Linked DNA regions of Homo sapiens: region 1 is linked to region 2. The links come from fine-mapping of genetic effects on gene expression. A gene starts in region 2. The other region holds a variant in brackets. All regions are shown on one strand. Distances are from middle to middle.

What was found. PIP is the estimated chance that this variant, and not a neighbour inherited with it, causes the effect.
Region 1: its variant is the best candidate, but not a certain one, in a credible set for the expression of LAMTOR1 in whole blood (TOPMed, PIP 0.51).

Annotation. Positions count from the first base shown.
Region 1 is chr11:71,718,810-71,724,187 of GRCh38, forward strand. It overlaps the pseudogene ENPP7P8. Among named protein-coding and RNA genes, the nearest start is that of DEFB108B, 110 kb to the right of the region's middle. The variant G/A (reference allele first, on the strand shown) is at 2,389.
Region 2 is chr11:72,100,926-72,106,244 of GRCh38, forward strand. LAMTOR1 (late endosomal/lysosomal adaptor, MAPK and MTOR activator 1) reads right to left here and starts at 2,372. Exons shown (of 5, transcript NM_017907.3): 1 at 2,258-2,372. The coding sequence starts at 2,299. It overlaps LRTOMT (leucine rich transmembrane and O-methyltransferase domain containing), which reads left to right. Exons shown (of 9, transcript NM_001145310.4): 6 at 4,039-4,087; 7 at 5,131-5,285. TOMT (transmembrane O-methyltransferase) reads left to right here and starts at 4,999. Exons shown (of 3, transcript NM_001393500.2): 1 at 4,999-5,285. The coding sequence starts at 5,027. It also overlaps the pseudogene LOC124902837. RefSeq lists enhancers at 2,078-2,157, 2,938-3,458 and a silencer at 2,258-2,527.

The sequences.
Region 1 (5,378 bases), 380 kb before region 2:
GCCTTGGACTTTCCCAATTCTGGTATCATCTCCCATTCTCCTTTAGGTCCAGTTTTCTCAGAGGGGCATGCATTGTTCATTGCCACCAAGGGTATACAAGGACACAAACTGAAGATAATAGTGCCTTATTGTCTCTCAGTCATCTTTCTCTCCCACATGCTGGAAGGAGAGCCAAGTCCAATTTATCCAATTACAAAATAGCAACATTGGCATCATGAGATCAGCTAACACAACTTTCAGAGGCAATCTATCTTCCTACCAAAAGTAACCAACATCTGTGGAGCACTTACCATGACTAAGGGTCAACATAAGTGGTTTGCATGCTGCATGCATCAGGATGGACCAGGTTATGCTGCAGTAACAAATTAACCCCAGAGTCTCAGCAGCTTAGCAACCAAGGTTGATTTCTTACATTCCATGTCCACAATGGGTTGGCTGGGTATGGTGTGCTCCATATGGCCACTCAAAGACCTAGAATGATGGAAATTCTACCATGTTAATGCAAGGATTCTCCCATAGTTACTACACCAGGAGATGAGAGAATGAGATAGTTATTCCCAAGCCCTCAAAAGCTGTAGACTAGAGGTGATATCAGTGACTTCCACTTATAAAGCCTTGGACCCTGGCATGGATCCATCTAACTACAGGGGGTCTGGGGAATACAGGGAGCACCTGGAAATCCCATGAGCAGTAACCATTCCTGCCAGCATGCATTATTTCATCTGAACCTCACAACCCCATGGAATATAGAACAGAGGCTTGGAGAGTTAAGGGACCTGCCCCAAGGCGTCACAGATAATGAGTTGCAGAGCTGAGATATGGCCCTCAGCCTGGCAGGTTTCAAACCACTATGCTGCATACTCATCACAAAATTCTATGAAATTCCTCATACAGCAAAACACCACACCAAGTGAAAAGAAAGCCAAGTTGTGCAAATACAAAATAGAACTGCCCGGACACTTCACCTCCTCACCCACCCCACCCCCACCGAAAGAATCAACCTACGCAAATAACTGGAATGAAATTCTCAGGCAATTTCAGCAGGGGAAATGGGGTTATCTCATCTGGGTCTCACATCCGAACTCATCAAGACAAGACCTTCCCTAAACTTCACCTGAACACCTGGACACACCGTCATGTCTTGCCGCTTCTTGTTACTGGAAATCCAATGATGATGTCTTTATACAATTTATAGGTCTTTCTATAAGTGCCAAGATAAATGTCATCTCTGTACCTGCATATCATTCAGAGGTAGGCAAGCTTCTATGTAAAGTGCTAGATAGTAAATATAAACTTTGCAGGACTCATATGATCTCCATCCTATACATTTTTTTGTTTTTGTTTTACAATTTTTTTTTTCTTTTTAGATAGGGTCTAAAAAGAAAACAAAACTTATCCATGTTGTGATATGGATGAACGTTAAAAACATGCTCAGTGAAAGAAGCAGACATGAAAGGTCATATATTGTACAATTCCATTTATATGCAATGTTCAGTCTAAGCCAATCGACAGAGATAGAAAGTAGATGAAGGGTTTCCAGGGGCTGCAGGAGGGGATATGCAAAGTGACTGCTGAATGGATATGAGGCTTCCAATTGAGGTGTTGAAAAAGCCCTGAAACTAGGTAGTGGTGACAATTGCACAACATGATAAATGTACAAAATGTCACTGAACTGTACACTTTCAGATACACAAAATGGTAAATGTTGCATATATTATACCACAATTTTATTCATTTATTTTAGAGAGAGAGTCTCACTCCATCACCCAGGCTGCAGTGCAATGGCACAATCATAGCTCACTGCTGCCTTTACCGCCTGGGCTCAAGCAATCCTCCCACCTAGTCTTCCAAGTAGCTGGGACTACATGTGAACGCTACCACACACAGCTTTTTAAATTTTTTTATAGAGTTGCATTCTCGCTTTATTGCCCAGACTGGCCCAAACTCCTGGCTTCAAGTGATTCTCTCATCTCAGCCTCCCAAAGTGCTGGGATAACAGGTGTAAGCCATCAGGCCAGGCAATTTTTAATTCTTATGCGAAATTTTCAAATAATTCCTAGGATTAAAAAAAATGTCGATCAACATGGGGATTAGAGGAAAAAATAATTTTAAACAAAGAAAAAATTAAATGAGATGATGTATATGTATACAGTGCCTGGCCTCATGATCACTGAGTCCACTGCAGCTTTTTATTTTTTTTTTCCATATAGGGTCTCACTCTGTCACCCAGGCTGAGTACAGTGGCATAATCATGGCTTACTGCAGCCTCAACCTCCTGGGCACAAGTGATCCTCCCACCTCAGCCTCTCATGTAGCTGGGACTACAGATGCACACAACCACACCTAGCTATATTTGTTGTTGTTGTTATATTTTTTGGTAGTGACAGG[G/A]TCTCACCATGTTGCCCAGGCTGGCATCTTGAACTCCTGGGCTCAAGCGATCCTCCCACCTCAGCTTCCCAAAGTGCTGGGATTACAGGTGTGAGCCACCATGCCCATCCTGTTGTAGCTATTTTAATAGTGCTGGTGAACAATAATTTGCTCTCCCTATAAAAACAGAACATACAAAGCCAAGGAAAGCACCAATCTAGTTTGTTCTCCCCAGATCTTGAAATGTTGGAATTAGTATAAGAGTGCAAAATATTCATGTGGTTTGATTTTTTTTTTTTTTTTTTTTTTGGAAATGCAGTCTCGTTCCATCGTCCAGGTCAGAATGCAGTGGCGCAATCTCGGCTCACTGCAACCTCCGCCTCCTGGGTTCAAGCAATTCTCCTGCCTCAGCCTCCCGAGTAGCTGAGATTACAGACATGTACCGCCACGCCTGGCTAATTTTTGCATTTTTAGTAGAGATGGGGTTTCTCCATGTTGGACAGGCTGGTCTTGAGCTCCTGACCTCAAATGATATACCCGCCTTAGCCTCAAAGTGCCGGGATTACAGGTGTAAGCCACCATGTCCGGCCAGTTTGATTTTTTACTGTGGTAAAATACATACAAAATCTATTATTTTAGCCATTTTCAAAGGAAAAATTCAGTGGTGTTAAGTGCATCCACCACATTGTACAGCCATGTTCCCCCACCCATCTCCAGAACACTTTCATACTGTCCTGCAAATATGCAGCACCTTGCTACACTCCAGTTTGTTTGTCCCACAACAGAGCTGGGCTGAATTAATTATTAATGTGACTTTGTTCAACAACGGACTAAAGAGGGAGAAGCCCATGAACTGTGTGAGGAGTGCATGACAGGTGCTCGTGGGATGACGTGGCTCGGCGCCCTCCAGCTGCTGCTACCGCTGCCTGTCCTGCTGGGCGGCCACCTCCTCCCAGGGAAGAAGAGCACTCACAACTGCTGCTGATCTCCTTCCAGGGCTTCCGCTGGGACTAGGATCAGGATGTGGACACCCCCAACCTGGACCGTCTGGCCGGGGAGGGCGTCAAGGCCAAGTACCTCATGCCGCCCCTTGTCACAATGACCTCCCCGTCCCACCTCACTGCCATCCCAGGTAAGCGTCACTCTGCCCATTTCACCTGATGCCCATCAAAGCCCCAGCGTCCGTCATTCCCTGTGATAAGAAGCAAAAGCTCGGTCAGCTCTAGGGAGGTTGAGGCGGCTCCGGGGTCTCACTCTGTTGCCCAGGCTGTAGCTCAGTGGCATAATCACAGCTCAGTGGAGCCTCAAACTCCTGCTCTCAAGCAGTCCTCCCTAGCTCAGGCTCCCCAGTAGCTGGGGATACAGACAAGCCACCGTGTCTAATTTTCTCATTTTCTTAGAAATTGGGGCAGGGGGTGTCTCACTATGTTGCCTGGGCTGGTTTCGAACTCCTGGCCTCAAGTGATCATCCCACCTCAGCCTCCCAAAGGCTGAGATTGGAGACATGAGCTACTGTGACTGGCCTGATCTTTTTTAAAAAAGTAAATAAGGCCGAGCATGGTGACTCACCCCTGTAATCCCAGCACTTTGGGTGGCTGATGCGGGTGGATCACCTGAGGTCAGGAGTTCAAGACCAGCTTGGCCAACATGGTGAAACATCGTCTATCCTAAAAATACAAAAATAAGCTGGGCATGGTGGCAGATGCCTGTAACGACAGCTACTCGGGAGTCTGATACAGGAGAATCACTTGAACCCAGGAGGTGGAAGATGAAATGAGCTGAGATCATGCCATTGCACTCCAGTTTGGGCAACAGAGCAAGATTTTGTCTCAAAAAAAAAATAAAAGTAATAAAAATAAAAAGGTAAATAACTAGAATCACTTTTAAATAATTGTATAAAAATAATAAAACATTGACATTTACAGAGCTCAGTTAGATGAGGTGACTCATACCCTCCAATGGTGTCCTGGTTCTCTTACATAAGAATTGAAATGTCTTTCTGTGGCTCAAAAGATCCCACGCAGACTGGCCCCTGGCCCATCTTCTGCCAGCCTCTCTCATCTCTCTCCCTCTCCTTCACTTCCTTCCGGATCACAAAGGCCTTTTGCCTGTGCCTTCTGCCCTGCTCCCTCCAGCCCCAGGGCCTTGGCCTGCGCTAGTCCAGTCCCTCCAGCTCACCAGGAGCATGCAGTCCAGTCAGGGAGACAGACACCAGACACCCAAACAGGCACATACATCCCGTGACAACTCAGGAGGCATCAAGGAGGAAAACGAGTTTTCCAGGTACAGACTACAGGGGTAAACTGGCTTCAAGCTAGAGAGGGAGAAAGGGGGTCTCTGATCATGGGGCGGTTGAGCTGAAAGAGATCTTAGGGGATCAGAGCAAGGAAAAGTGTTCCAGGCAGAGGGAAGAGCATGTGTGAGGTCTCTGAGACAAAGACCTGGTCATTTCAGAATCCCAGTGGCCACTAAAATAGAGGGATTCCAACCTAAAAAGGAGGAAGAGGAGGCTGCTGGAAAGCAAAGTACTCTGTGTAAGAATCATAATAGCGGGGGTGGAGCCAAGATGGCCGAATAGGAACAGCTCCAGTCTACAACTCCTGGCTTGAGCGACGCAGAAGACAGGTGATTTCTGCATTTCCAACTGAGGTACTGGGTTCATCTCACTGGGGAGTGTCAGAAAGTGGGTGCAGGACACTTGGTGCAGTGCACTGAGCATGAGCCCAAGCAGGGCGAGGCATTGCCTCACCCGGGAAGTGCAAGGGGTCAGAGAATTCCCTTCCCTAGTCAAAGAAACGGGTGACAGATGGCACCTGGAAAATCGGGTCACTCCCACCCTAATACTGCACTTTTCCAATGGTCTTAGCAAACGGCACACCAGGAGACTATATCCCGCACCTGGCTCGGAGGGTCCTAAACCCATGGAGCCTCACTCATTGCTAGCACAGCAGTCTGAGATCAAACTGCAAGGTGACAGCAAGGCTGGGGGAGGGGCGACCACCATTTCCTAG
Region 2 (5,319 bases):
AATACATAGGCTCAGTATTAAAGAGCTAAAAAGACAAAATGTTTGCCAAAGATAAAACTATGTATTTCTAAGGAAAGCTGGCTCCATAATGAGGCCCAAGTTAGCTTCCTATGTGTCTGTCCTCCCAGCTCCACTTCAGACAGATCTTCCTGCAGGACAGGGTAGTCTCTTCCCTATCAGGGGTTCTTCAAGAAGAAGGTTGGCTGATCACTTCTCAGCCTTCAGCTAAGATCAAGTGAACAACAAGGTTATTTTCTTGAAACCCAGACTTAAAGAAGAGGCCATGCTACCTACTTCAGAGCAGACAAACATCACCCCACTCCCAAAGTGCGAGTGGAGCATGGGTTAGGTTTGTCACATCAAGGTTTGTCTCTGCATTAGTGTAACCCAAGAGGCAGGGTTTCACTGTCTACCTTAGCACAGACATAGCAGCCTGCCCGTGACTGGCCACCTGGTCTAGGGGCATGGCTGAGACAGCTTGGCCCCATGGATAAAGTACATGGCCTAGCGTCAGAACACCTGGGCACTAGCACTTCTCAGCTTGGCCAAATCACTTAGCTTCTCTGAACTTCTTCCTCACCTTTCAATAGACATAACCCACACTAATATGACGGATGTCTGGCAAGAGTCAAATTAGATAACTGTGAAGGCCCTTTGTAAACTGTAACGTGTTGTATATTTTTTATTATGATAAAGAGACAGAGATGAGAGTCGGAGAGGGGCCTGCCCAAGAACTCAAAGAGGGACTGTGGGATGGTGGATGGTTATGGCCCTTGCTACATGAGGCCTCAAATCACCCAGCAGTGATTAAGCACCTTCTCTGGGTGTTAGGAACAGAAATGAGAGCCCCCCAAGGAGAAGGTAGAGATTCAGGAGAGCAGCAGGCCCAGCTCTCCCTTCCAAGTAGAAGCTTGTATCCTTTCTCATACGGCATTAATCCTTCTTGACTCATTCCCTGCAAGAGTCCATATTATGCTTTAAGGGACAATTTCCCACTAGGCTACAGCTCTCCCAGTAGGCAGGGTTATTGTTGTCTCTTTCTCAAAAAGGTGGAAGTGAAGTGAGAGGTATTAGGCACAACACATGCCTAACACAGGGCAAAGGAAATATGTGTTCATTGGGTGTATGGAGAATTGAGAACCAGAAGCCACCCTTGCTTCCCATACAAACGACATTTTCCTAGGCTTAAGCCCTTAATCCAAAATACGTTCACTGAAGAACGAACTACTTCCCAAGTACCAGTGATATAATCTATTTTTGTGACCATCTTCCCCATTAGACCGTGAGCTACCTGAAACCTTTCTACTCTCTCAGGTCTACTATATGTTCAAATGTAGAATCCGGGCTTAGAGACGATCAAAAAAGGAGAGTAGACAGCAACTTGAGACTTCATCCTTGAATGTCAGGCCAGGCAGGGCAGGGATTAGAGTGTGGGGAGAAGTGAGAATGCACTAAGAGGAAGAGGGAGAATTTAAAACTGTACAGGTCTCCCCAGCCTAACCCTTTCTCCAAAGGTATCAGATCTACAGCCAAATTCTCAGAATAGGCATGTCTCCAGCTAAAGGAACCCTCAGGCCCCAGGCAGACTGCACTGAGGCAAGCCAAACTCAGAACCAAATGAACTTCCCGCTCCATTTCTCTTTTCCCACAATCTAGCCAAAGCTAAATCCTCTTTGTTGCTTCCCAGACAATTTCCCACATGTCCCGATGTCCTCACTGTATCGATTAAATCCTTCATTGGCCAATTCAAAGGCCACCAACTTCCAGAGTCGTCCCCTGGCCCTAGACTAGCAGCGACCTTCCTTCTGCAACCCCAGGGACTAAGACGATACACGAATTCCTGATTCATCTCAGGACAGACTAACTCAGGGCCTCAGCTTACCCACCCCTAAAATGGATTCGCAAAGCCCACTAATACACAGAAGACACAGGAAGCTGGGGAAGGGAGTGTTTCCCGGGGACCTAGACTGAGGATCCTTGAATCTGAAAAGTTTTGAAGGTAGGAGCAAACGGAAGTGGTGGGAGCGAGCCGGACAGGCGGCTGCCTGCACACCCCGAGGCGGGGACTGTGTAGAAATCTGGGGCTTTAACAGGGGTAGGAGCCCGGCTTGGCGTCTCCTCTGTAATCTGTCCCCTCCAGGCCTCCGTATTCAGTGAGCCCTGCAGTCCGGCTGCCCGTCCTCCGCAGGTTTCTTTCTGGGCCCCATGCCCCAGTGTCTTAGCCCTCATTCCCGAGCCCCGCCTGCCGCGGCCGCACCTGGTCCGAGTCCTCGTTCTCGCTGCTGTAGCAGCACCCCATGGCCGGGGTCGGGCCGGGCGCTCAGGCCGCGCCGAGGAGGGACGGCGTCCGTGAGGAGCCCTTCCGGTCACATGACCCGCGGCGGCCTCCCGCAGGCAACCACCCGCCCCCACCCCCCGTACCCCCTGTCCCGGAGCCGCTTGGCCGCCTCAGTCAATACCCCGGCTTCCGGTCCCGCCCGCTAGCGCGTGATCGTTGTCAACCAATGGGAAGGCGTAACCGTACACGCAAGCACGTGATGCGGGGAAAGGGCGGGGCGGATCACATGACTTCATCTTTCCAGTCTCTAAACTGGCAGTAGTGGCCATCGTGAATTGTGTTATGCGTTCTCGTGGCCACTAGGCCACTTTTCTGGGCCATTGAGCGAACTCGTACCAAATGCCCTCGTATGCCCTTGTGATATACTCTTCTAAATGCCATGCGAGGGGCGACTGGGATCCAGGCCTGATGCTCCAGATCGTACGGTCTGGGTGCACACACACAGATGATCCAGATGACCAGTACCTAGTCGGGGAACACAGAGGGTGTATCGCCCAGCTGGGCTGGGGGTGAATACACAGAGGGTGTATTCTCCACCTGGGCTGGGGATCTGCGACTTACAGGAAGAAGGGACCTTATACTACCTTCACATGCTGACGCGCAGCGGAGATAAATCCTGGTAGAGGAGATAGAAGCCACCTCACTGACCTCTCTGCTTTCAGGCTTTTATCTTTAATTCTGCCTTTTTTAACAGCACCCATTGTAATCGAACGCACAAAGCTGACCATCAGTTCTCTTTTCCTAACCCCCGCTCCATGTCTTCCCTTGGGCCCTGAACACAGGTCCAAGTCCGTCCAAGATTGTATAGTGATCCATTTGTTGTTCATGAGCGTGTGATTGGGTGTTCACCAGCATGTATCAAATGTGCCACCCTCAAATCTTGTTTTGGCACATTACCCGTCTGACATAACAAGAGCCTGACACCTCTCCCACTGCATGTTCTGGGGTGAGGGGTGGAGGGGTCAGCAATGTGTTTCACTGGACATAGAGAAATAATGTAGTTTCCTGATTGATCTACTGGACTTTGTACATGCAGCCTGGTCTGCCTACTGTCTTTACTGTCTTCGAGACTCAGTACAATGTCCTCCTGATTACCTTCTCTGACTCCATTCTCTGGACATGCCCAGCTCCCTATGCTTAATCCTCATCCAGTGTTAATTCATGCATTTATTGAATCAACAAATATTTGCTGAGCGTCTACTATGTGCCACACATTGTTATATCTGGATATGCAGCAGTTCACAAAACAGCCAAAGTCCCTGTAGTCATGGAACATCCAATAGTGATCACACTATATTGTATTCTCTGTTCCTGGGTCAGTCTCACCTACCAAACTTGGGAGTTCCTGGAGCACAGTGACAGGTTCTGACTCTTCCCTGTAGCCCAAGGCATGGCCTTGCTTACAGAAAACTTGCATATCAATGAGCATGTTACAGTCACCCCATCACCTTGGCTCACCCCATGCCCCATCTTCTGATCCAAAGTATTGGAGAAGTCACCAGATCTCATACCTCTTATAACCCCTCAAATCAAGACCCTGAGGTTCTGTAAATCTTTTGAGGTTCCTGAAGGGTAGGAGGCAGCTCAAGCTCGTCCCTGGGGCTGGTAACTTGAACTGCAGGTCTCAGGTGACAGCAGCAGCCTCAGCATGAATAATTGAAAGCCATTCCAGCCTCCTACCTCAGGGTTATCCCCCGCAGCAGGCCCTGGACTCCCCGACCTGTCCTGTGCTCTGGTCCTCCAGCCCAGGTAAGCAGGGCCCTGGATTGTGGGTTCCCAAGCTCACCAGTTCAAGCCCACCGCATCACTCACCTATTCACACCCATCCATACACTCTTTCATTTTTACTCCCCGCCATCACCAGGGGCCTTGCAAGAAGGCCGGCAAGGAGGTCAGATCTGGATGAGGAGGAGAATGGTCCAGGACATGGGAGGAGAGGCCCATTCCCCATAGGTCCCTGGAGAGAAGAGCTGAGTAGAGGGAAAATGTGTGCTGTGTGTTATGTGTATGTACACATTTGTGAAGGGAATTCTGAGACAGCACAGGAGAAGAGGGGAATACAGCGGAGAGGAGATGGGGCTGGAGAATTATTAAAGAATCAAAGACTCCTCCCATCCTCAGGGAAGAGCAGGCAGAGGGAGAGTCCTGGGGTGGGAAAGAGGACATCTCACTCTAACACCCTATGGGGTATTTTGATTGCATTTTACTGAGGCAGGGCACAGTGATAGTGAAGGTGTTTTTGACTGCAAATCTATGCTCTTTTGCTACACAGCAGTGGTCAGAGGAGACCAGGCAGGCAGAGGGTAGGGGTGGGGGAAGATATCCCAGAGGTGAATTAGTGAAAGGGGTCCTGAAGAAGGGGTGACTTCAAGGATAAAGAGAAACAAGTCAGGGGAACAATGTGAAGATGGGACCAGGGGTTGGGACCGGGAAGAGGTGGTTTGGGGCTGGGTGCTGAAAGTAGACAGTATAGAGTCCTTGAAAGTACACAGGCTTGGAATCACACTAACCTGGATTCAAATCCCAGTTCTGCTCTGTGACTCTGGACAAAAGACTTAGCCTTTCTGAGCCGTGGTTTGTGAAATATAAGGATAATAATTGCTACTGGCAAAAGCTACACAAATAGGCAAATTGTGGGTATGGGATTCCCTCCCTACCTCCCTCCACCCCAGGGCCCAGGTAGGGACCATGTCCCCTGCCATTGCATTGGCCTTCCTGCCACTGGTGGTAACATTGCTGGTGCGGTACCGGCACTACTTCCGATTGCTGGTGCGCACGGTCTTGCTGCGAAGCCTCCGAGACTGCCTGTCAGGGCTGCGGATCGAGGAGCGGGCCTTCAGCTACGTGCTCACCCATGCCCTGCCCGGTGACCCTGGTCACATCCTCACCACCCTGGACCACTGGAGCAGCCGCTGCGAGTACTTGAGCCACATGGGGCCTGTCAAAGGTCAGTGTTCCCTAGCCTTCTGCTCCAAGAAGTA